4 linked regions of the Homo sapiens genome follow. The protein of the gene in region 1 purifies or fractionates together with the protein of each later gene. This does not show direct contact. Each region holds a gene or a part of one and is shown on either strand. Other genes may lie near its edges. The genes, in order: RAB1B, RABGGTA, GDI1 and GDI2.

The links.
Region 2: the proteins of RAB1B (region 1) and RABGGTA purify together in Homo sapiens (affinity purification with mass spectrometry; 3 studies listed by BioGRID and IntAct, with this or other methods). This does not show direct contact.
Region 3: the proteins of RAB1B (region 1) and GDI1 purify together in Homo sapiens (affinity purification with mass spectrometry; 5 studies listed by BioGRID and IntAct, with this or other methods). This does not show direct contact.
Region 4: the proteins of RAB1B (region 1) and GDI2 purify together in Homo sapiens (affinity purification with mass spectrometry; 5 studies listed by BioGRID and IntAct, with this or other methods). This does not show direct contact.

The regions. Positions count from the first base shown.
Region 1 is NC_000011.10:66,271,606-66,277,992, forward strand, and holds the end of RAB1B (ras-related protein Rab-1B), read left to right. Parts: intron 1-191; coding exon 192-264; intron 265-551; coding exon 552-647; exon of another isoform or gene 648-759; coding exon 760-855; exon of another isoform or gene 856-987; intron 988-4,198; coding exon 4,199-4,330; intron 4,331-4,438; coding exon 4,439-4,633; 3' UTR 4,634-5,887; downstream 5,888-6,387. UniProt on the Homo sapiens protein: The small GTPases Rab are key regulators of intracellular membrane trafficking, from the formation of transport vesicles to their fusion with membranes.
Region 2 is NC_000014.9:24,268,579-24,275,413, reverse strand, and holds the start of RABGGTA (geranylgeranyl transferase type-2 subunit alpha), read left to right. Parts: upstream 1-3,816; 5' UTR 3,817-3,927; exon of another isoform or gene 3,928-4,244; 5' UTR 4,245-4,298; coding exon 4,299-4,301; intron 4,302-4,466; coding exon 4,467-4,577; intron 4,578-4,955; coding exon 4,956-5,080; intron 5,081-5,273; coding exon 5,274-5,461; intron 5,462-5,719; coding exon 5,720-5,923; intron 5,924-6,250; coding exon 6,251-6,334; intron 6,335-6,420; coding exon 6,421-6,503; intron 6,504-6,587; coding exon 6,588-6,689; intron 6,690-6,794; coding exon 6,795-6,835. UniProt on the Homo sapiens protein: Catalyzes the transfer of a geranylgeranyl moiety from geranylgeranyl diphosphate to both cysteines of Rab proteins with the C-terminal sequence -XXCC, -XCXC and -CCXX, such as RAB1A, RAB3A, RAB5A and RAB7A.
Region 3 is NC_000023.11:154,432,746-154,440,153, forward strand, and holds the start of GDI1 (rab GDP dissociation inhibitor alpha), read left to right. Parts: upstream 1-4,408; 5' UTR 4,409-4,509; coding exon 4,510-4,554; intron 4,555-5,777; coding exon 5,778-5,885; intron 5,886-6,019; coding exon 6,020-6,119; intron 6,120-6,260; coding exon 6,261-6,395; intron 6,396-7,195; coding exon 7,196-7,394; intron 7,395-7,408. Other genes in the region: ATP6AP1 (V-type proton ATPase subunit S1 precursor), read left to right, coding at 186-226, 890-975, 1,463-1,701, 2,394-2,441, 2,529-2,760, 2,937-3,146. UniProt on the Homo sapiens protein: Regulates the GDP/GTP exchange reaction of most Rab proteins by inhibiting the dissociation of GDP from them, and the subsequent binding of GTP to them. Promotes the dissociation of GDP-bound Rab proteins from the membrane and inhibits their activation.
Region 4 is NC_000010.11:5,764,723-5,768,467, reverse strand, and holds the end of GDI2 (rab GDP dissociation inhibitor beta), read left to right. Parts: intron 1-83; coding exon 84-255; intron 256-1,829; coding exon 1,830-1,974; intron 1,975-2,172; coding exon 2,173-2,227; intron 2,228-2,315; coding exon 2,316-2,462; 3' UTR 2,463-3,245; downstream 3,246-3,745. UniProt on the Homo sapiens protein: GDP-dissociation inhibitor preventing the GDP to GTP exchange of most Rab proteins. By keeping these small GTPases in their inactive GDP-bound form regulates intracellular membrane trafficking.

The sequences.
Region 1 (6,387 bases):
GGCTGCAATGAGCCGTGATCACTTCAGTGCACTGTAGCCTGGGTGACAGAGTGAGACCTTATTGCTAAAAAAAAAATAAAAATAAACCAAGGGATGCCTCATGGGGTGGGGGAATCCTGTAATTGTGACTCCAGGATGATGGTAGGTGGGCTCCCTGCCTCCCTTCACGCCTTCCCATCTTCTCTCTCCAGTGACTACCTGTTTAAGCTGCTTTTGATTGGCGACTCAGGCGTGGGCAAGTCATGCCTGCTCCTGCGGTTTGCTGTGAGTAAGAAGCCTCCCATACCATCCACCTGGGGTCCTGACTGGCAGCTGGGGGGAGAAGGGACAACACAGAGCACAGTAGTTGCAAGATCTGGGAACCAGGGGTGAAGCTGTAAGACCTGCCACCAGCACATCTGCCCTGAACAAGACAGGGCTGGCCAGCTGAGTGCTGGGAATTGGGGCTTGGTGGTTCGGAGACCCAGCTGGGGCAGGGAACTGGAGGGAGGCTCTCCAAGTGGGCCTCACCTCATTAACTCCCATGATTTCATTGGCCCCTGAACTTTCAGGATGACACGTACACAGAGAGCTACATCAGCACCATCGGGGTGGACTTCAAGATCCGAACCATCGAGCTGGATGGCAAAACTATCAAACTTCAGATCGTGAGTGTCGCTCTTCCCAAAATCCCCAGTACAGAGGTATCCACCTTGGGAGGGAAGGGACTCTGGGACTCTGGACCTCAGCTGACCTGCTCCTCTGCCTACTGTCTCCTAGTGGGACACAGCGGGCCAGGAACGGTTCCGGACCATCACTTCCAGCTACTACCGGGGGGCTCATGGCATCATCGTGGTGTATGACGTCACTGACCAGGTACTCCTGGACTAGCCATCCTCAGCTTGGCCTCCTTAGCCTTAGGTCTTTGACTCTTCTTTTTCCTCCTTCCATCCTCTCTTTCCTGATGCTTCCTGGAAAGGACACTATTTGTCTGCTTACAGGAACTAACTAGGAAAAAGAAAAAAAATAGGTGACTGTACTTGGACTCATTTCACAAGGAGGGAAACAGCCACAGAAATGGATCCTCTGAAGGCCCTGCTGCAGGTTCTGGCAGGACAAGGCCTCACACCTTCCCTCCCCACCAAGCCAAACTTGCCACCTTATTGTAGACCTTCTGGGCACCTTTGTGTTGTGGGAGTTTAGTCAGGCGGTTGGCTGCTATGCTGGGCCTGTGGCTTCCTGTGTGAAGACACAGTGCAGGGGGACAATTAGAGGGCCTTAGACAAAGAAGCAGGGAAGCTTGAGCTCTGGGCCCAATGTGAGCAGAGATCCAGAAGCTCTGCCTCCAGCAGCAGCGTTAGTCCCATGTGACTAGCAGTGGTGGTAGCAAGGGCTGGAAATGGTTCCATGAAACCTTATAGTTTACAGAACCTGGCCCAGCCCTCAGATTGCCTCTGATGCTCAGAAGAGGTCTGTGTTCCCATCGCACAGGTAAGGAGCTGGGCTCAGGATGGTGAGGTGACTTGCCGAGGGTCCTTCAGCTAGTCCGGTGGCAGAGGCAGAAAGCCTGGATGGCTCATTCCACCTGCTTTGTTTTTTCTACCAAATGTTGTTGCTTAACAGGGCCAATCCCTGAAGATAAGGAGAAGCTTAAATCAGCCGTGGGCCGGGAAGAGTCCCTGTCTGAGGAGCAGCCGGGCTCTTTAGCTCACCAGGGACTCATGATGTCCCCAGCTCTGGACGAGCTGTGGGGAAGCTACATACCACCCAGACAAGTTACCAGGGCCCACCTGACTGCCATATATCCAGTGATCTTATTTCAGCACATTGACCTCTCGTGGCTTTGGACACTGCTCTCTTCTCTCTCCTTGAAAAGTGGACCATCCCCCGCTCCTCAGTCTCCTGCAGCACTCGATTCTCTATTGTCAGTGTCTATTTGCTGGTCTGTCCAGTGCTGCCTCCCATCACCCTGTGTTTGGTGCTTCCCCACTGCCCTGGACTCTCCTCCTTACTCTTGTGCATGGCTGCGGCCACTCTGTGGTTTGCTTCTGCCTTGTGTTCTGTGATTCCTGCATCTAACAGCCGTGGCTGTGGCTTCCCTCCTCTGTCCATGTCTACACTGGCACTTTGTGTCTGTATTAATCCTGATCTTCATGATCTTCTCTAGTAAACTAAATGGTGAGGTTTGTGTTTTCTAGATGAGGAAACTTGCTTGGAGAGGTGTTAAGTAACTTGCCACCGGTCTCACGGGAAGGGCAAAGCCAGTTTTGGAGGGCTCTTGGCTTTTGAGCACACCCTTTCCCACCCTCAAGCAGCCTCTGCAGAACTCAGATGTCCAGCGCTGGCCTCACTGTCTCTCCCCAAACCAGCGCCTCTATCCCCATTTTTAATATTTTTATTTATTTTAAGACATGGGGTCTCACTCTGTCACCCAGACTGCAGTGCAGTGGTGTGATCATAGCTCATTGTAACCTCAACCTCCTGGGCTTAAGGGATCCTCCTGCTTCAGTCTCCTAAGTCACTGGGACTATAGACACACACCACCATGCCCCAGCTGCATCCCCATCTTTGTGACACAATCCTTGTCAGCCTGACCAGAAAACTCTTCCCTCCCCCATCCAGTCAGTCTCGAGTCCCCTCTATTCTCTCCCCATCATCTTTCTGAAATCTGTCCCCTCATAATAATAGCAGTGATGAGGATAATAGCAGCTCTTGCCAATTAAGCACTTGTTATGAGACAAGCCTGTGTTCATTCTCTTCATGCTCACAATCAGCCCTTCTAGGAGGTACTGTTTATAGAAATGAGGAAACTGAGGCTCAGAGTGGTCAGGTAACATACCTGGGGTCACACAGTAAATGGCTGAGCCAGGCCTTCAGCAGCAGTGGTCTGACTAAATCCTGTGTGCTTCCCTGGCTCAGTGCACGTTCTCTTCCCTGAGTTATTCCAGCCATTCCCAGTTGGTCTCTATCTTGCTATTCTGATCTGGGCTCTGCCTCCTGTCAGGACTAGCATAGGTGTGATCCTGTTGCTTCTGGCCTAAGAAACGCCCACTGGCTCCTGGTCTAAGTCCAAGACTTAGCCATGCTAAGACAGTCTGTGCTCTGGCCTCTCCCCAATCCCCCCTCTTTCCTCCCCTCTTCCCCCTCTCCCCTCTTGCCTTTCTCCTCCCCACTCCCCCATTCCCCCTCCCTGTCCCCCCTCCCTGTTGAGTGTCTGCATCCCAGCAACATTCCATTTCCTCCCATTCCCCAGACACACCATGCCCCTCCCGTTCAGTGACCTGGCACATGCTGGCTCCCCAGCTGGCACCTCTCCTGCACAAGGCCAGTTCCCACCTGCAGGCTTAGGTCCACTGTTGCTCCCACCTCAAGCAGAGGTGGTCTGGGGGCTCCCCAGCCCCTGCCTTCTAACCTGTTTTGCCCTTGTGTGTGGCCTGGTCTATTCATCTACTGTCCCGTGAATGTGTTAGGGCAGGGCCCAAGTATGATTTCCCCCTTTGTCCCCAGCACTTAGCACAGGACCCAACTTGGAACATGGCAAGAGGTCTAAGTTTGAGCCAGTGTGATATGACCAGGCTTCTGGCTCCTAAGGAGTATAAGTGGCCCTAGCTTGAGCACTTTCCTGAAAGTCCTGTCCTTTGTGTGTGGGGTAGGGGCGCAAGTGCTGGGAGAGTCTGAAGCCAAGTAATGAGGCTGTTGGTGCCAAAAGTAGGATGAATTTTAGGCTGTTCCCAGGATTCCTGTCTCCCCACAGGCCAGGGCCACCTCTGAGAGGACCCTCGAACTCCTGTGCTCCAAGGCTTCAAACCTTAAAGGGATTTTCAGGCCACGGTGGGAACTGTGGCTCTTGCGGACCCGTTACTCTCTGTTCCTATCTCCCGTCCGCTCTCTCTTTGCTTCTCACATGTGGTTAGGGCCTGCAAGTGTCTCAGGGAGAGAGACAGCTGCAGGGAGCAGAGCTGGCAGGCCCAAGTTGGGGCAGCTGTTGAGGTGTTGGGGCAGCTGGCAGGCTGCTGGGGCTGTTCTGGGTCTCGGATGGAAGAGGGCAGGGAGGAAGGTTCAGCCTGGAGCAGAGGGCTTCCTCTGCATCTCTGCATCGCTGAGCCCAGGACTTAAGGGGCCCGGAGCTGTACTGTTCCCCTCAGAGAAGGTCTTCTCCAGGCCTGGGGTAGGGGTGACAGTTGGGAGCAAAATAACTTTGGCCCCTGGCCCCCTTTAGGAATCCTACGCCAACGTGAAGCAGTGGCTGCAGGAGATTGACCGCTATGCCAGCGAGAACGTCAATAAGCTCCTGGTGGGCAACAAGAGCGACCTCACCACCAAGAAGGTGGTGGACAACACCACAGCCAAGGTAGCAGACGGGCCGGTCTGCCCGGGGTCGGGGCGCTGGGGCCTGCTGCCCCTCACCTGCTCTCCCCTCCTCTTCTCTCCCCTCCTCTTCTCTCCTCTCCCTTGTCAGGAGTTTGCAGACTCTCTGGGCATCCCCTTCTTGGAGACGAGCGCCAAGAATGCCACCAATGTCGAGCAGGCGTTCATGACCATGGCTGCTGAAATCAAAAAGCGGATGGGGCCTGGAGCAGCCTCTGGGGGCGAGCGGCCCAATCTCAAGATCGACAGCACCCCTGTAAAGCCGGCTGGCGGTGGCTGTTGCTAGGAGGGGCACATGGAGTGGGACAGGAGGGGGCACCTTCTCCAGATGATGTCCCTGGAGGGGGCAGGAGGTACCTCCCTCTCCCTCTCCTGGGGCATTTGAGTCTGTGGCTTTGGGGTGTCCTGGGCTCCCCATCTCCTTCTGGCCCATCTGCCTGCTGCCCTGAGCCCCGGTTCTGTCAGGGTCCCTAAGGGAGGACACTCAGGGCCTGTGGCCAGGCAGGGCGGAGGCCTGCTGTGCTGTTGCCTCTAGGTGACTTTCCAAGATGCCCCCCTACACACCTTTCTTTGGAACGAGGGCTCTTCTGTCGGTGTCCCTCCCACCCCCATGTATGCTGCACTGGGTTCTCTCCTTCTTCTTCCTGCTGTCCTGCCCAAGAACTGAGGGTCTCCCCGGCCTCTACTGCCCTGGCTGCAGTCAGTGCCCAGGGCGAGGAATGTGGCCAGGGGATCCAGGACCTGGGATCCAGGGCCCTGGGCTGGACCTCAGGACAGGCATGGAGGCCACAGGGGCCCAGCAGCCCACCCTTTCCTCTCCCCACTGCCTCCTCTCCCTTCCTACACTCCCAGCTCGAGCCGTCCAGCTGCGGTGGGATCTGAGTATATCTAGGGCGGGTGGGCGGGTAGCAGTGCTGGGCCTGTGTCTTGAGCCTGGAGGGAGTCTGCTCCTGCCGCCCTCTGCCCTGCCAGAGACAGACCCATGCGCTGCCTGCCCACCGTGCCCCTTTGTCCCCATGTCAGGCGGAGGCGGAAGGCCCACCGTGCCAGAGGCTGGGCACCAGCCTTAACCCTCACTCTGCTAGCACCTCCTCCCTTTCCCCAAGGTAGCACATCTGGCTCACTCCCCACTCCGTCTCTGGAGCCCACCAGGGAAGGCCCTCATCCCCTGCCGCTACTTCTCTGGGGAATGTGGGTTCCATCCAGGATTGGGGGCCTCTCTGCTCACCCACTCTGCACCCAGGATCCTAGTCCCCTGCCCTCTGGCACAGCTGCTTCCTGCAAGAAAGCAAGTCTTTGGTCTCCCTGAGAAGCCATGTCCCTCGTGCTGTCTCTTGCCTGTCCCACCTGTGCCCTGCCCTCCAGCTTGTATTTAAGTCCCTGGGCTGCCCCCTTGGGGTGCCCCCCGCTCCCAGGTTCCCCTCTGGTGTCATGTCAGGCATTTTGCAAGGAAAAGCCACTTGGGGAAAGATGGAAAAGGACAAAAAAAATTAATAAATTTCCATTGGCCCTCGGGTGAGCTGAGGGTTTTTGCAAGGAAGTTGTGGTGGCCAAGTGTGGTCTGTGGTCTAAGCCCAGCCTTGGGGTGGGGGGATGGAACTGGAACCCTGGGCTTGGTGGGGTGCACGGGGGTCCTGGCTTGGTTTCTGTGTCCTAAGGCTGCTGGCAAAAGCCCTTGACCCCGTTTCCTGAGGCCAGGAAAGCTGCTTGTGCTTCTGTGGTCTGTCCCCAAGGGCCCAGCACCGTTCTGTCAGGGAAAGAGGCAGGCGGCCATCAGCTCATACCTGGCGTGCCGCCGCCAACTCCCGCGGGGCACACGGCAGAGGTGTGGGGTCGCGCAGCCGCTGAGAGGGCCCCCACTGCACCTGGCCCAACCTCCTTCAGCGCCCCCCAAAACCCCACTGCTCCCATTCAGCCCCTGTCCTGGCGTCATTGTGTGTCCCAGCCAGGTGCTTCTGCCGTCTCCGACAGTGACAAGTGCCTCGCACTTCAGCCTTTGCCCTGAGCGCCCGCCCGAGGGGGCCGAGTGCGGCTGTGCCG
Region 2 (6,835 bases), on another chromosome or scaffold:
TTGGACAAGAAACTAACCTCTGCAAACCCACTGTATTCCCTGTTGCTTCATTGTAAAATATGGATAATACCTATTTCATATAGGTAGTGAGTGCAGTAAATAAGATGTCTGGGGCTCTGTTGATACTCAATTACTGTTTGTTTCTTTCTATACATAGAGGGCAGTAAAAATCTCTTCTTCAAACATCATTTAGATTGTGGCTTTCAGGGCACGGTGGCTCACGCCTATAATCCCAGCACTTTGGGAGGCCGAGGCAGGCAGCTCACCTGAGGTCGGGAGTTCAAGACCAGCCTGACCAACAAGGAGAAACCCTGTCTCTACAAAAAATACAAAATTAGCTGGGCATGGTGGTGCATGCCTGTAATCCCAGCTACTCGGGAGACTGAGGCAGGAGAATCGCTTGAACCCGGGAGGCACAAGTTGCAGTGAGCCAAGATGGTGCCATTGCATCATTCCAGCCTGGGCAACAAAAGCAAAATTTGTCTCAAAAAAAAAAAAAAAAAAAAAGCCGGACATGGTGGCTCACGCCTGTAATCCTAGCACTTTGGGAGGCCGAGGCAGGCAGATCACGAGGTCAGGAGATCGAGACCATCCTGGCTAACAAGGTGAAACCCCGTCTCTACTAAAAATACAAAAAATTAGCTGGGCAGGGTGGCAGGCGCCTGTAGTCCCAGCTACTCAGGAGGCTGAGGCAGGAGAATGGCATGAACCTGGGAGGCAGAGCTGGCAGTGAGCAGACACCGCACCACTACTCCAGCGTGGGTGACAGAACGAGACTCCGTCTCAAAAAAAAAAAAAAAAGATTGTGGCTCTCAGACACCTGCATGGTTCCCACTTATCCCACATAGGAGGCCAAATATAACTCCTGACAACTCCTTTTGCCTTCAAGCAAGAGGCTTATTATCATCAGTTCCACTGCTCTTATCTCCAAAGGCACCTGGCTCAGCCTCTCTGTGCCAGCCAGCTAAGTTAGTTTGGCTTTCTCTCCCCCACCTTCACGTCATATTACATACCTGAAATACCCTTCCTGCCCGCTCTTTCCAAAACTCAAGCCCTGCCTTCTCTGATGCAGATTTTTTCATGAGACTCACTTCCTCTCTTAAGCCTGCTTGACTCAACCTTCCCAGTTTCAAGATTGCTAATCACAATGTGATTAGTGACTATGATGCAAGGCTGTACCTGGCAAATCTGCACTTGAGGGCATCTGTGTTCCCAAGTATCTGGTTGCGCCTATGAGTGTGCACAGAGCAGGAAGCTAGAGAAGGAGGTGACCACCAACAAAAGAAGGCTGGTGGTGAGGTGGGAGGGCTGGACCAGACTAGACACAGGTCCCATTTGGCCACTTATTACATGGGTGGCCCTCAACAAGTTACTTAATCTTTCTGAGCCTCAGCTTCCTATTACTATACTGAGCCCTTACTTAGTACAGACACTATTCTAAGCACTTTACATAGATTCTTTTATTTCAGCTTAACTTCAACAGATTAACTTCAACTGCAGCAGCTAGATAATATTTTTCCTATGTTACTGTTGAAGAAATTCAGACATAGAGGAAACGCAATACAGAAGTTAAGTAACTTGCCCCAGGTCACACTGGGACAAGCAAGTGGCAAAGCTAGGATTTGTAGCCAGGCAGTCTGGCTCCAGGATCCATGTTCTTAATCACTCTGCTTACTGCCTCCTACCTGTAATTCTGTGTGTGTGCACATCCCTCCTATGTATGCAAAACTCCCATCACAGTGGCTGGCACAAAGAGAACCAATAAATGGCTTAACTCTTTCCTCACTGGGACTACAAATACACAGGGATAGGAAAAATGTCTCTTTTCGAGAATTTGTTATAGGATCTAGGAAAGGACAAGTATATAATGGACACTTTACATACATTTCCAGGGGCTGAGAGAGGTGTGAAGGATATATAAAGATTTAAAGCACTGGCGGGGCATGGTGGCTCACACCTGTAATCCCAGCACTCTGGGAGGCCAAGGTGGGCAGATCACCTGAAGTCAGGAGTTTGAGACCAGCCTGGCCAACATGGTGAAACCCCGTCTCTTCTAAAACTACAAAAATCAGTCGGGTGTGGTGGTGCATGCCTGTAGTCCCAGCTACTCCAGAGGCTGAGGCAGGAGAATCGCTTGAACCCAGGAGGCAGAGGTTGCAGTAAGCAGAGATCGTGCCACTGCACTCCTGCCTGGGCAACAGAGTGAGACCCTGTCTCAAAAAAAAAAAAAAAAAAAATTTAAAGCACTACCTTCTTACCCAGGTGTGAGTTATAAACACACACATGCCACATGGACACACTATTCGCAAAGACATCACACACGTGTACGTGTGGTACACACACACTCACTAGCCACCCTGAACCTCATAAAGGCTCCACCAGAAAACCTTCTTTGCAGTAGGCACAGGGAAAAAAATCACAGTCTTTAAAAGTACATATGAAGGTCTATCAAATCAGACTGGGGCATTTTAGAGAACTTCCTCGAGGTGCCACTTGAGTTACATTTTTTTTTCTTTGTACTGTGGAGTTCAAAAAGTTAAATCTTAAAGATAAACAGGAATTACTGTGGCAAAGGAGGAGTGTGGAGAAAGGAGAGTCAAGAGGGAACAGGCTAACATATTTAGGAAACTGCAAGTATTTCTGTAGGCTGTCATGAAGAGTTTTTGGCAGGGTCAGGCAGGATATACAGCCAGAGAGTAGGCAGAGCCCAAATGCCAATAGGTCTGATGTGCTGAGCTGAGAGATTACAATTCTATCCTGAAAAGGAGCCACTCAGCACTTTTAGGCACAGATATGACGTCAAATCTGCATTTTAGAAAAATGGATTCAGTAGCACAGAGGATGGACTGATAACAAGGGATGAGGTGGAGAACACTGAAAAGACTTTCAACAATCTGGAGAAGAAATTCGGAGTTTGAACTCCTAGTGGCAGTGGGAAGAGAAAGAGTATTTAAGCGAGTTTAAGAAGTGAGGAGGAAATAGTGCCATTCACTACAATAGAAAACATAAAGGCCAATGTTTAGACAGGATGGATGAAAGATAATTTATACCTTTTGGCTTTTGGAGTTTGAGGTGTCTCTGGGACACCAGGTGATATCCAACAGGTGTTTGAATATGTATGTGCATGTATATTATTTATTGTTATTTAAGCTTGCAAGACATCTGGGCTGGAGATATAAATTTGGGTGTCATCAATTTACAGGTAGTAATTAAAACAATGAGTGTGGATGAACTCACCCAGAGAAAGTGTAATGCCAGATTTGTGGGCCAAAACAGCTCTGAGGAGCTCCAACTCGAAGCAGTTGAAGGCTTACATTTAAACATTCTCCCAGGAACAGTGGGTGAAGTGAAAAAGGGGTGAGGAAAGGGCCCTGGAGATCACCAACATTTAGGGGTGGAGGTGAACAGATGAGAAGAGAGAGGCAGAGGTGCAGGAGGAGAAGCCAGAATGGGGGTGTCAAGTATAAAGAAATGGGTAGCGTCAAATGCTTCAGAGGTTAGAGAAAATGACAGGAAACTCCCCCTGTTAGATTTGACATCTAGAAGGCTGTCGGTGTGGCCAGGGTGAGGTCAGTGGAGTAGTGAAGGTGCGGGTTTCCGGCTGTTGGAGAAACCTCTTCCACTAACTACATTGCACTCTGAGTTACCAACTGGCATGGTCCTCCCCCCATTTCACACGCACGCTACAGTCGCCCGTGCGCACTCGTACACACCAGGTGGCTAACAGGTACGAGGCGTTTCCGGACAGCGAGCGCAGAGCCCCCGCGCACGCGCCTCCGAGCCGGCCTCTTCCGCCGCAAGTCCCTCCCCAAGCCTGCAGAGTGCGCTGCGTTTCGATGAGCCGGGACGTGGCGCCGCTCTAGCCAGCGCCTGGGCTCTGTGGCGGGCGCCGCAGCTCCGCGTCCCCCGCGCCTCCTCCCAGCGCAGGTGGGTCCGCCCGCGGGGGGCGGGGGTGCCCGGGAGCCGTGGGACGGGCGGGTAGCGGCAACCTTTGGGGAGCAGAGTGGTCCCCAACGCCCAGGTGCCCCGGCTCGCGCTCTGGCCCGGGCGAATCGGGCTATAGGAAGGGCCACACGGATGGAAGTCCTAGTCCGGGTGCTCACCTCTTGTGGAACGTGCAAAGCCTGTCCCAGGACCTCTTTACACTCTGGGGGTCTCTGCCCAGGCACGCTTGCTGCTTCCGGACACAGCTGTGGGCGGAGCTAGTAGGGGCGGGGCTACGTGATTGACACTTCTCTCCTCAGACTTCAAGGGCTACCACTGGACCCTTCCCCTGTCTTGAACCCTGAGCCGGCACCATGGTGAGAACCCTGAGCCCAGCCCTTCACCTCCGCAGGCCCGCGCCCTCACCCCCAGTGGCAGTGCCATGGTTGCCCCGTATGAACCTAGGGCTCCACAGTGTGGGGTTTTTGCAGGTCAGCTTCTGCAAGGCAACCTGCACTCTTCCAACCCGTTCATCCTTGTAGCACGGACGCCTGAAGGTGAAGACGTCAGAAGAGCAGGCGGAGGCCAAAAGGCTAGAGCGAGAGCAGAAGCTGAAGCTATACCAGTCAGCCACCCAGGCCGTATTCCAGAAGGTGGGGCCCTCAGAGGTAGCCCCGACCCCAAGTAGCTCCCTTAGTATAGTGCAGAGGCCAAGAGCTGGTCCCTAGAGTCAGACTGCCTAGATCCAATTCTGGGTTATCTCACTTATAACTGTATGACTTTGGGCAAGTTGCTGAATCTCTTTGGGCCTCAGTTTGCTCATCTGTAAAATGGGGCTAATAATTGCACCTACTGCATAAGGCTGTTGTGAAGATTAAATGAGAGAATACCTGTAAGGCCATAAAGCATGGTTCATAGTACCTGTTGTATAATGTGGGATTCACAGAATATTGGATGGTTTTAAGTTTACGTTATTTAGTCCTGTAGTGGGAAAATTATATGATCTCTAACCCTGCCACCTATCTTCTTAGCGCCAGGCTGGTGAGCTGGATGAGTCCGTGCTGGAACTGACAAGCCAGATTCTGGGAGCCAACCCTGATTTTGCCACCCTCTGGAACTGCCGACGAGAGGTGCTCCAGCAGCTGGAGACTCAGAAGTGCGTAGGGATTCAGGATCTCAGAAGACTGCCCTGGCCCTGCGCCTGCACTGCCTGGGTCTAGGGGTGGAGGAGAAATGGGGCAGCCAGTGGCATAGATGGAGGATAGTAGGGGGCTGGGTGCAGAAAGTGAGGGGTGAGCTGAGGTTGACTGTAGGAGAGCCCTGACCCCCCCCTTCCCTTCTGGGTACAGGTCTCCTGAAGAGTTGGCTGCTCTGGTGAAGGCAGAACTGGGCTTCCTGGAGAGCTGCCTGCGGGTGAACCCCAAGTCTTATGGTACCTGGCACCACCGATGCTGGCTGCTAGGCCGCCTGCCTGAGCCCAACTGGACCCGAGAGCTGGAGCTCTGTGCCCGTTTCCTGGAGGTGGATGAGCGGAACTGTACGTGGCTGCAGATTCTGTCCCCACAGCCCTCACCTGCCCACATTCTGGTACTGGGGCCTCAGTAAGGCCCAGAATGGGGAGGGATATCCAGGATGGGTCCACTGAGCTGGTGCTGAAAGGGATGTTGGAGCCAAATGCATCCTCCGTGGAGTGCACTGAGGTGTTTCTAGGGGTTCCTGAGGGGACTCTAGGGGTCCCAGCCAGGTAGCTCCTCTTGCCCTGCCTCTAAGATATGCTGTCACCTCTCCCCTCCAGTTCACTGCTGGGACTATCGGCGGTTTGTGGCCACACAGGCAGCCGTGCCCCCTGCAGAAGAGCTAGCCTTCACTGACAGCCTCATCACCCGAAACTTCTCCAACTACTCTTCCTGGCATTACCGCTCCTGTCTCTTGCCCCAGCTGCACCCCCAGCCGGATTCTGGACCACAGGGGCGCCTCCCTGAGGATGTGCTGCTCAAAGGTAACCAGGGTCAGGGATGCTCAGGAGGACTCTGCAGTGCCACCCTTCCAGCCCCCATGCCTGACCCTGTTCCTGAACCTGTCACTCAGGTTTATTGAGCACCTACTTCATGCGTGGCTCCAGGGGTGCTTAAGAATCAGTCCCTGGCTGAAGGAAGCTTAAGTGTCTGATGGGGAAGATAAAACTGACATACGTAGCCCCTGTGCAAGGACAGCATATAAGTGAGACTGGGGGCTGGAAGTACTCCAAGGAGAGGGTAGGGTGTTGGAGTGGCCAGGAGCTCACCAGTGTCCTGACCACAGCCCCATGCCTCCTGGAACCCCACAGAGCTGGAGCTGGTGCAGAATGCCTTCTTCACTGACCCCAATGACCAGAGTGCCTGGTTTTATCACCGTTGGCTCCTAGGCCGAGGTGAGCAATGAGGAAAGGGGCTGGGTGTTTAGCGCTTAATAGGAATGGGAGAGGGTTTAAAGAAATCTGACACTGTCTCCCCGCAGCTGACCCCCAGGATGCACTGCGCTGCCTGCATGTGAGCCGGGACGAGGCCTGTCTGACTGTCTCCTTCTCTCGGCCCCTCTTAGTGAGTCCTGCAGCTTTTGTCAAGAGCACTGTGGGACTGTGGGCCTGGTGCTGATGGGGCTGAAGTCTTTGTCCTTTGTGCCAGGTGGGCTCCAGGATGGAGATCTTGCTGCTCATGGTTGATGATTCTCCCCTGATTGTGGAGTGGAGGACCCCAGATGGCAGGAACCGGCCCAGCCATGTCTGGGTATCCCAGGATTGGTGGGGCAGAAGTTGGGGTCTGGGGCAGGGCTGGGTGGGACAGTCAAAAAAGTGGTTAGGCTGGGGCATTTCCTTGACCCAGTACTCCCAGCTCTGTGACCTGCCTGCTGCCTCCCTCAACGACCAGTTGCC
Region 3 (7,408 bases), on another chromosome or scaffold:
CAGGACTTGAGTGTGACTGAGAAGCCTCGGGGTGGGATGGGCTTCCAGGAGGGGGCACTGAGGTAAGAGTGTGCAGGCTTGGTGCGTGGGGCTAGTGGGGAGGAGAAGCTGGGGTCGGGGAAGGGTAGTGGGCAGTGCAGGTCCAGGCCGCCTGAGGACTCTGGCGCTCTGTTTGTCTTCCATAGCTCTGGTCTGATGGCACCCAGGGAAGTCCTCACAGGCAACGGTGAGTAGAATCAGGGAGGATGCACGTCCTCATCTAGCCCTTGGGTGGGGGCCACAGAGAGAGCTGGCCTGCAGTTCCTCGGCCTCCTCACTCCCAGGGTGGCCCGCCTGCTTCTCGGGGCAGCTGGCAGTGGAGCAGGGAAATGCTGGCTCCCAGGACCAGCCAGGGACCACCTGACAGAAGACCCTGTCCAGCCAGACCCCACTTGGCAGAGGGGGGCGGCTCTCTGTGCTGGAGGCTGTGGAGCCAGTTTCTGTGCAGGCAGCGTGAATCCTAGAGTTATGGGTTTAATAAGACTGCAGACATTTGGAAAAACAATTCTGGGGACTCATCTATTTGCAATAAAGGACAGTCACTCCCCATGGAAAGGCAGTCGTGAACCTTTCATGGGTGGATGTGGAGTTTTCTGTATTGATATGTATTTTCTTATGTCACATAGGTAGGGCTTGGCATTAGGGAATCGATGACTGAAGCCACAGTTGTCTCTGGGGGAGGCTGGGAATGGGGGTGGGATGAGAAGTAGCTGCTCCTAAGGATCCTCAGTGGAAAGTAAACACACCACTTTCAGATGGTCTAGAAGGTTTCTAAAGCAGACAGTGGGGAGTGTTTCTTTATGCAGGGTGCCTGGTGACCTGAGTCTCTGCTCTCCTTGTTGACCCTCAGATGAGGTCATCGGGCAGGTCCTGAGCACACTCAAGTCCGAAGATGTCCCATACACAGCGGCCCTCACAGCGGTCCGCCCTTCCAGGGTATGTGCCCTTCCAGCAGGGGCTCTGGGGCGTGCAGGGAGAGGCAGTGTGGTGAGTCTGCTTGGAGGTGGGGAGTGTATGCCACAGGTAGGCTGCCCAGGAGGCCCAGCATAGGGGAAGCATGAGGCACAGAACCCCTGTGGTGTGACTATTTGGAGTGGCTGACTCTGGGGGCAGGGCTAGGATGAGCACTCAAGTCCTGCCTCCCCATTCCAGGGGCAGCTTTCCATCTCGTCCTGTGAGGCTTGTGGGTGGCAGACTTGGACACTAAGTCTAAATGACCCTAAGTTTGAGGGACTAGGAATGTCATCAGGGTTTAGGGGGCATCAGGGAAGGCTTCCTGGAGGAAAGGTCTCCTCTGGCTGATGGGACTTTGAGATAGTGGACAGGGTGTCCTGTTGGGAGGGGAAGGAGGGCACGACAATTGGGTTCAAGTGTGACACTCTCCCAGGGCTGCTGAAAGAAGGCTGGTTGGGTGTTTCTGCAGGTGGCCCGTGATGTAGCCGTGGTGGCCGGAGGGCTAGGTCGCCAGCTGCTACAAAAACAGCCAGTATCACCTGTGATCCATCCTCCTGTGAGTTACAATGACACCGCTCCCCGGATCCTGTTCTGGGCCCAAAACTTCTCTGTGGCGTACAAGGACCAGTGGGAGGACCTGACTCCCCTCACCTTTGGGGTGCAGGAACTCAACCTGACTGGCTCCTTCTGGAATGACTCCTTTGCCAGGCAAGGGCACTAGGCTGGGGAGGACTGTGCCACCACAGGTGACCTTCCCATCACTGTGGGTCGCAGGTGGGGCAGGGAGCCAGGGTCAGGTCTGTGTTTTGGGGTGGGGATGGCCATGGTCTGGTTGGGGTCTGGGCAGCGTGAGGATGTAGGAGGTGTCATGGCATGGGGTGCTGTTGGAGGGGGAGTTGCTCAGACTTCTGCCTCCCCATGCTTGCGAGTCTTTGGTTGGGACCTTGGTTGTTAACACCTCAAGGTTACCTGGGAACCTGTCACCTCCCCCTTGAGCAAAACCTCTGGGACTTTGTGTGGGCAAATACCAGGCCAGCTATCTGAGCCATTTATGGGGCAACCATGCCCTTCTGTTTGCTCTCGCCCCCAAAGCCCAGCCCAGGCACCTTAGTGACCCTAAGAGGGAGTAAAAGGAGGGGCAGTGAGCTCAGGGGAACCAGAGGAAGGACCCCCATGCTGGTGGCAAGGGGGACCTGGGTCCTGGCTTCCAGCTCTGTTCCGACCTTGCAATGTGACTGGATCCTCAGTTTTCCTATCTGTCAAGTGGGGACACTGCTTCTTCAGGTGGCTGCAAGGACCCAAGGCAGCTTAGGTAGGAGCAGAGCTGAGGAACTTGTTCCTCTAAGATGCCAAAGGCCCTCCCAGAGCCTCACAGTGCGCCTCTTTCTCTGGCCCCACAGGCTCTCACTGACCTATGAACGACTCTTTGGTACCACAGTGACATTCAAGTGAGTCCTGGGGGTGGTTGAGGTATGGGTGGGCTGGTGTGGCCCCAGCCTCCCCAGCTCACCTGACATCCCTGCCACCTTCCCCAGGTTCATTCTGGCCAACCGCCTCTACCCAGTGTCTGCCCGGCACTGGTTTACCATGGAGCGCCTCGAAGTCCACAGCAATGGCTCCGTCGCCTACTTCAATGCTTCCCAGGTCACAGGGCCCAGCATCTACTCCTTCCACTGCGAGTATGTCAGCAGCCTGAGCAAGAAGGGTAGTCTCCTCGTGGCCCGCACGCAGCCCTCTCCCTGGCAGATGATGCTTCAGGACTTCCAGGTATGGAGCGGGCGTGGCCCAGCTTCAGGTGGGGGAGCCCAGGCTAGTGGTTGAGAGACGAAGAGAGGCTTGGGCTTGGGCATGTAGTTGAGAGTCCTGTCCCTGCGCTGCCCCTGTCCCAGTTCTTGCTGGGCCTCCCAACGGTCCTTTCTGACCCGTGTCTGTGTGTCTGCCAGATCCAGGCTTTCAACGTAATGGGGGAGCAGTTCTCCTACGCCAGCGACTGTGCCAGCTTCTTCTCCCCCGGCATCTGGATGGGGCTGCTCACCTCCCTGTTCATGCTCTTCATCTTCACCTATGGCCTGCACATGATCCTCAGCCTCAAGACCATGGATCGCTTTGATGACCACAAGGGCCCCACTATTTCTTTGACCCAGATTGTGTGACCCTGTGCCAGTGGGGGGGTTGAGGGTGGGACGGTGTCCGTGTTGTTGCTTTCCCACCCTGCAGCGCACTGGACTGAAGAGCTTCCCTCTTCCTACTGCAGCATGAACTGCAAGCTCCCCTCAGCCCATCTTGCTCCCTCTTCAGCCCGCTGAGGAGCTTTCTTGGGCTGCCCCCATCTCTCCCAACAAGGTGTACATATTCTGCGTAGATGCTAGACCAACCAGCTTCCCAGGGTTCGTCGCTGTGAGGCGTAAGGGACATGAATTCTAGGGTCTCCTTTCTCCTTATTTATTCTTGTGGCTACATCATCCCTGGCTGTGGATAGTGCTTTTGTGTAGCAAATGCTCCCTCCTTAAGGTTATAGGGCTCCCTGAGTTTGGGAGTGTGGAAGTACTACTTAACTGTCTGTCCTGCTTGGCTGTCGTTATCGTTTTCTGGTGATGTTGTGCTAACAATAAGAAGTACACGGGTTTATTTCTGTGGCCTGAGAAGGAAGGGACCTCCACGACAGGTGGGCTGGGTGCGATCGCCGGCTGTTTGGCATGTTCCCACCGGGAGTGCCGGGCAGGAGCATGGGGTGCTTGGTTGTTTCCTTCCTAATAAAATAAACGCGGGTCGCCATGCGTTGGGCCTCTTGTCGCTCATTTCTGCGCTGGGCTTTAGGCGCGTGCTCGCCGGAGGGATGCGGGAGGATGGAGCCTGGCGAGGGGGAGGCGAAGAGGCATCCGCGGAGACCGGGAGGGGCTTTAGCAAGCTGGGCCCTAACCGCTCAGGGTAGGGAGGGGCGGTCGGGCCGAGTCCCGGTGCGCTTCGGCGTCTCAGGAGGCCGTCGTGACAATGGCAGCCTTCGCGTCGTGAGGGGGCCGCCCCAGGCTGCCGCAGCGGCGCGCGCCCGGCCGCGGGGCCGCGCCGAGACTCCCGGGGGGGTGGGCGGGGGTGGGGAGGTGGGCGGGCGCGCGCGGGGCGGGGCGGGGCGGGGCGCGGCGGGTGGGGCGGGGCGCGCGCGGCTCCCGCGCACGGATTCTTCCTGGGCCGCAGCACCGGCCGCCGGCCCGCCCCGCCCGCCCCGCCCCGCGCCTCTCTAGACTCTCGGCGAGCAGCGTCGCCCGCGGAGCCGCGCTGGTGCTGTGGCCCGGGCCCTGGCAGCCCTCCCGGGAGGCGAGCCGGGGAGGCGGTGGCCCCTGCCGGTTGCGGCGGGGCGCGGGAAGAGGCGGGACTCTTTGACGCGGCGGAGGGGTCGGGCGACGGCCGACGCGCCGCCATCTTTGGTCCAGTGCGGTGGCGGCGGCGGCGGTGGCGGCGGCGACTGCTGCGGTGAAGGAGGAGGAGGAGCCGAGCGGGCGCTGGCACCGAGGCCTGACCATGGACGAGGAATACGATGTGATCGTGCTGGGGACCGGTCTCACCGTAAGTGCGGCCCCGGCGCCCCTGGCCCTGCGTCGTGCCCTCGCCATCCCCCGCGATGATGCGGCCGCCGGCCCATCCTCTGGTCACTGCCATCTTCTGCGCTCCGCTCCCCGAAAAGCCGGCGCCGTGCCCACCCCGCTGCTCCCCCAGCGACGTCGCCTCTGCTCGTTGCCATGACCCCATCTCCCCGAAGAGGCCCCCTTCCTGGCCGCCTCCTGGGCTACCCGGGTCCGACCCCCGGCGCCCTCCCATCTTCCCTACCCCTGCCCGCTGGACCGGAAAACGCACCCCCACTCGGCCCGATGCCCACGACCCCGCCCACCCATCGCCCCCACCCATCACGGCATCCACCCGTCGCCCGCACCCATTGCCCGCCTAGCGTTGCCTCTCAGCGTCCGTTCCCATCTTGCGCTAATCCCGGTGGGGATGAAGTAGAAGGACCTGGGGTCAGGGGGCCTCGCCAGAGTGGGCCCTCAGCCCGCCTCCTCATCGTCTTCTGGGGCCAGGGGATCCAGGGAATGTTCCAGAAGGAACAGCAGTGGGGGCAGTAAGCACATTCCCGCAACCCCACCTCGGTTGCCCATGGAGACCTCAGGCTGGGTAGCATCTGCAGCCTTTGTCCTTGGGCTAGTGACAGTGACTGGTGAGGGTGTTTATCTTCCCCCTTTCCCCGAAAACCCCGTTGGCCTACTCCCCTCAGAGACTCTTCTTCCTCGGTCCAGGCCCAGATGCCCCTCCTCAGCGGCAGGGGCTCCTGCTATTTGAAGAAAGAGCAGTCCAGGGTGGGGCCTACAATTTCAAGGACTGTGCTAAGCCTTTCTTTTCCTCCCTTTCGAGTGTCCTTTGCAGTCCAGCTGGGTCTTCTCTGTGCCTTATTGTGTTTTATCCGCCTTTTTGTGCGGCTCTGCGTAGGTAGATGCCTCTCGGCGTGTTGGTACTGGAAGGCCATCCTGTGTCTGCTGGATGCCCTGCCTCCCTCAAAGCCTCCGTTATTTCACTCTCCGCCTTGTGAGGGGGACGGGACTCCTTTGCCCAGCAAGGTTGCAATGGAGAGTGTGGTCGGATGAAGCCATCACCCCAATTTTAGGCGAGGCAACTAGCCAGTGGGGATGGTGGGTGGAAGGAGCTGTCCACTGAGGCAGGTTTGGGTGGGGAACAAATCAGGTCTGCTGGTAGGAGCGGAGGCAGGTGGGAGTGCAGCGGATGGTGTCACCCTCCCCCAGGAATGCATCCTGTCGGGCATCATGTCTGTGAACGGGAAGAAGGTGCTGCACATGGACCGGAACCCCTACTACGGGGGCGAGAGCTCCTCCATCACACCCCTGGAGGAGGTGAGGCTGCCCAGGCCCAAGCCTATCCCTGTTAACCTCCCACATAGCGGCACAGGGTGGAAGTAGCTCCCCAGGTGCCTGGAGCAGGAGGAGGTGGTCCCTGAGGTGTCTCTCTCTCTCCCTTCTGCTTACAGCTGTATAAGCGTTTTCAGTTGCTGGAGGGGCCCCCTGAGTCGATGGGCCGAGGCCGAGACTGGAATGTTGACCTGATTCCCAAATTCCTCATGGCTAACGGTGAGGGACAGGAAGGAGGTATTGCAGGTCGGGGGTGATAGGGAAGACCCGAGGACGGTCAGGCTCCAGAGGAGGCACGGCCAGACCAGCTAGAGCCTCTGGAGAGAGCCGTGCTGATGTTGCCCTTGTGCACCCCCACAGGGCAGCTGGTAAAGATGCTACTGTATACAGAGGTGACTCGCTACCTGGACTTCAAGGTGGTGGAGGGCAGCTTTGTCTACAAGGGGGGCAAGATCTACAAAGTGCCGTCCACTGAGACTGAGGCCTTGGCTTCCAGTGAGTGTGGGCCCCCTGAGCCAGAGAAATCATGGGGTGGCAGGGAAGCCAACTGTCTTTGGGATGGGTGGCTGTCCAGAATAAGGCACCCCCTTGTCCAAAGTCACATTTCCCGTGAAGGACCAGAGAGGCCCTTCACTCTGTATTCCCTCTGCCCCATGTCATGCTGCACGGCTGGCTGCCAGGAGGGAGGTCCTCACACAGCAGGGATGTGATGTGGAGGGGAACGGGGCTCCTTTTGAAAGACTTGAGCCTGGCCAGGTGCGGTGGCTCACGCCTGTAATCCCAGCACTTTGGGAGGCCTAGGCGGGTGGATCACGAGGTCAGGAGTTCAAGACCAGCCTGGCCAACATGGTGAAACACCGTCTCATCTCAAAATACGAAAAATTAGCTGGGTGTGGTGGCATGCACCTGTAATCCCAGCTACTCGGGAGGCTGAGGCAAGAGAATGGTTTGCGCCCGGGAGGCGGAGGTTGTGGTGAGCCGAGATCACACCACTGCACTCCAGCCTGGGCGATAGAGGGAGACTCCATCTCAAAAAAAAAAACAAAAACTTGAGCCTTTGGCAGGGCCTCCACTGAATCCCCGAGACATCGCCAAGTGTCTGAGCCAGGAAGGCCCTTAGAGCCCATCCAGGCCAATCCCCTCTTCATCCAGGTGGGGAAACTGAGGCTAAAAAGGGTGGAGAGGTTAACCTAAGATCACAGGACAGCTGGGCTGTGAGTGGGGGTGCCTGCCCTGCTGGGATGGAGAGTTTTGTGCTGCATTGATGCAGAACCTCCTCCCGCCGCGTTCCTTAGATCTGATGGGCATGTTTGAGAAACGGCGCTTCCGCAAGTTCCTGGTGTTTGTGGCAAACTTCGATGAGAATGACCCCAAGACCTTTGAGGGCGTTGACCCCCAGACTACCAGCATGCGTGACGTCTACCGGAAGTTTGATCTGGGCCAGGATGTCATCGATTTCACTGGCCATGCCCTGGCGCTCTACCGCACTGATGAGTGAGGGGAAGCTG
Region 4 (3,745 bases), on another chromosome or scaffold:
CTAAGTCTTCCAAACTATGAACATGGGATGTGTTTCCCTATATCCTTGTCCGCTTCAGTGTCTTCTTAAATGCTTTGTTATAGATTGCTCGCTGTAAGCAGCTCATCTGTGACCCCAGCTACGTAAAAGATCGGGTAGAAAAAGTGGGCCAGGTGATCAGAGTTATTTGCATCCTCAGCCACCCCATCAAGAACACCAATGATGCCAACTCCTGCCAGATCATTATTCCACAGAACCAAGTCAATCGAAAGTCAGGTGAGGTTTGAAGACCAGCAGATGTTGGTAGAATTTTGTAAGATATAATTTGCTTTGTGTTTTATCCCAAATTCCTAATTTTGTATGCTGTATTAGTGAACAGACCTTGGTTTACATATGGGGGAAAAAAATCTTTGTACCTCCTCCTGCTCCGGCAGCATTGTGTCAACGCGGACAGATTCAACTCGGAGCCAGCCTTGGACTTGTGTCCATCACCTGTAGAATGAACAGACTGGGCTTGGTGAACCCTGCGTCTCCCAGCTCTAACTAACAGTAGGTTCCTGTGGAGGTTTATGCTTAATAGTTAACTGACCCGAGTATATTCTTGAGCTAATGACATAGCTGCTTCTGTGTCCTTATTTGTAATCCTAGTACCTACATTTGATTCTAGCAGTGTCCACCTTTCATTTCTGTGATCAGGACATGGCTCTAAAATTGCAAGTCCTAACTTATTTGTCTTAGCCAGTTGTTTGTAACCCTTCGATGTTCCCATTTTCCTTTCAACTAGAAGCCCCAAATCTTTTTATTTATCTAAAATTCAGCTTAAAAAGGGTAATCAGGCTTTATGGGACAGGTAAGAGCTATCTGTATAATGATTTTTTTTCCCCCATATAAGAAATGAAATCATGGGAGGCCAAGGCAGGAGGCTTGCTTGAGGCCAGGGGTTCAAGACCAGCCTGGGTAACATAGTGAGAGCTCGTCTCTACAAAAACAAAAAACAAACAAACAAAAATGGCTAGGTGTGGTGGCACACACCTGTAGTCCTAGCTACTTGGGAGGCTGCGGTGGGAGAGGATCACTTGAGCTCAGGAGTTTGAGGTTACTGTAAGCTGTGATTGCATCCCTGTCTCCAACCTGGGTGACAGAGCCAGACTGTTAAAACACAAAAAAAAACCAATCACAAAAGATGATCTGTAGAACAAAGGGACTGGACTTAATCTTCCACAAGGTTCCCAGGCGGGTCCTGGGTCCTTGCAAGTCTGAAAAGAATAAAGGAGGTCCCAGAGTTTTTTTTTTTTGGCCTTTAAATGCTCTCCTATCCAAATGATTTTCTATCCTGGAAATGACACAGTTAACTGGATGAGTGGTATACAGACCAAGTCTAATCGAGAATTCTATCGTTATGCCAACTCAAAAGTGGTTTATGTGGATTCTGCAGTTTTACATTACTGTAATAAGTAAATGAGGACGTCAGTACTAAGTACATCCTTTCTTAGCCATTCAGAACCTTTCTAAATGCAAGGTCCAGAATGGAAGAATCTCCCAGAATAGTTAATATGGTTTGGCAGGTTTTTTAGTTAGGTATGACAGAGCTGTTAAGAGATCTCATTCCAAACTTCAGCAGTTCGCTACCACTTCAATTCTTAATCTCTAGTAGGTTAAAAGAAATTCCTATTGTTAAATATCTGTGTACTTTACATCCAACTCTGTCACCATTTAGAACTTAAGTGTAGAAGATCTTGCCTATTGAGAGTAATTTTAACTCACACCTCATGACATATGGGTGATACCTGAGTATGTTGGGTCCCAGATGGAGACACTTGAGGCAGTGAGCTGGTATCATTTGTTTCTAGATATCTACGTCTGCATGATCTCCTTTGCGCACAATGTAGCAGCACAAGGGAAGTACATTGCTATAGTTAGTACAACTGTGGAAACCAAGGAGCCTGAGAAGGAAATCAGACCAGCTTTGGAGCTCTTGGAACCAATTGAACAGAAGTGAGTTGTGTTCTTTTATATCTGCCGAGATGCAAACTGAGGCCTTTGATTGTGGCTCCATGGTGGGACGAATGTGAGGGCAAGGCAGGTAGCTGCTGGCTGCTCTGTGGGATTCATCTGTACCTCTCAGTTGACCTCAGGCAGAGCCATGGTCAGGTGTGGGACCAGCTCACCTGACTGAATTCTCTCTCCCTCCAGATTTGTTAGCATCAGTGACCTCCTGGTACCAAAAGACTTGGGAACAGAAAGCCAGGTGAGTATGGAAGTGTGAAAGGATATGGGCAGGTTTCACTGGAAGACATCCCTCCATGGTCTTAAGTCTTCGTAATTTTTGTTTTCAGATCTTTATTTCCCGCACATATGATGCCACCACTCATTTTGAGACAACGTGTGATGACATTAAAAACATCTATAAGAGGATGACAGGATCAGAGTTTGACTTTGAGGAAATGAAGCGCAAGAAGAATGACATCTATGGGGAAGACTAACAGCAGTACATGTTATTATGTAATTAGGACACATTTAAAATTTGGCAAATAATGCATATAATGAAATCAATATTGTAAGGCCTGCTTTTGTAATGAAAATGGAGAGAATGAAGAGCGCTGTGCCAGTAAATACTCCCCTTCACCTTTCTAATTATTAACTTGTTTTCATGGAGTGGCTATTCAGCATTGGCAGTTACCACATTCTGTTCAATTTAACCAAACTGGCTTTTTTTTTTTCTAGTGAAGTTAAACAAACATTGGGATACCGACACAGACAACTTGAGACAGTTTTTTTAATCTTTTAATCAGTGTAGCTATGTGCTGCTGCTGCTCAAGAGCTGGATCCATACAGGTTGTGTGTCATCTGTCCTCTTGAGGTTCAGGAGATTCTAAATTGAATATTCCACGGTTTGGGACAGCATCCGGAAGTTTTCCCTATGACTTTATATTTTGTATTATGTCAAATGTTATGGCAGGGCCCAAATAGCATAGCCACAAGTTTGGTTTATGTGGGCATAAAATTCTAACCAAACCCCAGACATAGGGAGTCATTTGGAGAAAGCCTGTATGTGGTGTTTTAACCTAATAAAGTTGATGAGAGAGAAGGGGAGAGGAAGCGAACATAAAGCGGGTCAAGTGTAGTGCATCTTTTGTATCTCAGGCGTGGCTTCTTCAGTGGACCAAGCTGCAATGCAGTATTGACTTGACAGAGCCTCTACTTCTGTCTCAAAATGGCTCCAAATGATTTCTGTACTGCAAAATAAAGCCAAATTCTGGAAACTACTGCCCGGTGTTGGTTTGTGTGTCCTGATTGCAAGGGTCACAGCTGCCGTGCTTCCTTTGGTAGCACTGGAGTCAATGCCAGTCAGAATGCTCAGCAGCGGAAAGCGTGGGTGTCTTCTGATCTGGAAGGATCACAGCAGGTCCTGTCGTCTGGCTTCCCTGTGAGTAGACCTCGAGTTTTATTCTTGACACAGTACCATTACTAGACCTATCATCTTTGTGCAGAAAAAATAGTGTTTAATGATTTTGCTTGTAGCAGCAGTTATAAGGGAGTAAGTGAACTGTCAGGTAGAGTAGGTGCTTTAGTAAATAATTTTTGTGTAGTTGAAATGATAAAGTGTTTACATATAAGGCCCTTTCCCCTGACAGTGATGAGCCTCACGGCAGATGCTGTTGTTTACCACAGATAAACACTGACTCTTCAGAGTATGAAGGAGACAGACTAAGGTAGATGATGTGTTAAAGGAACTAGGGTGGTGATTTAGATTGTTATTCATATT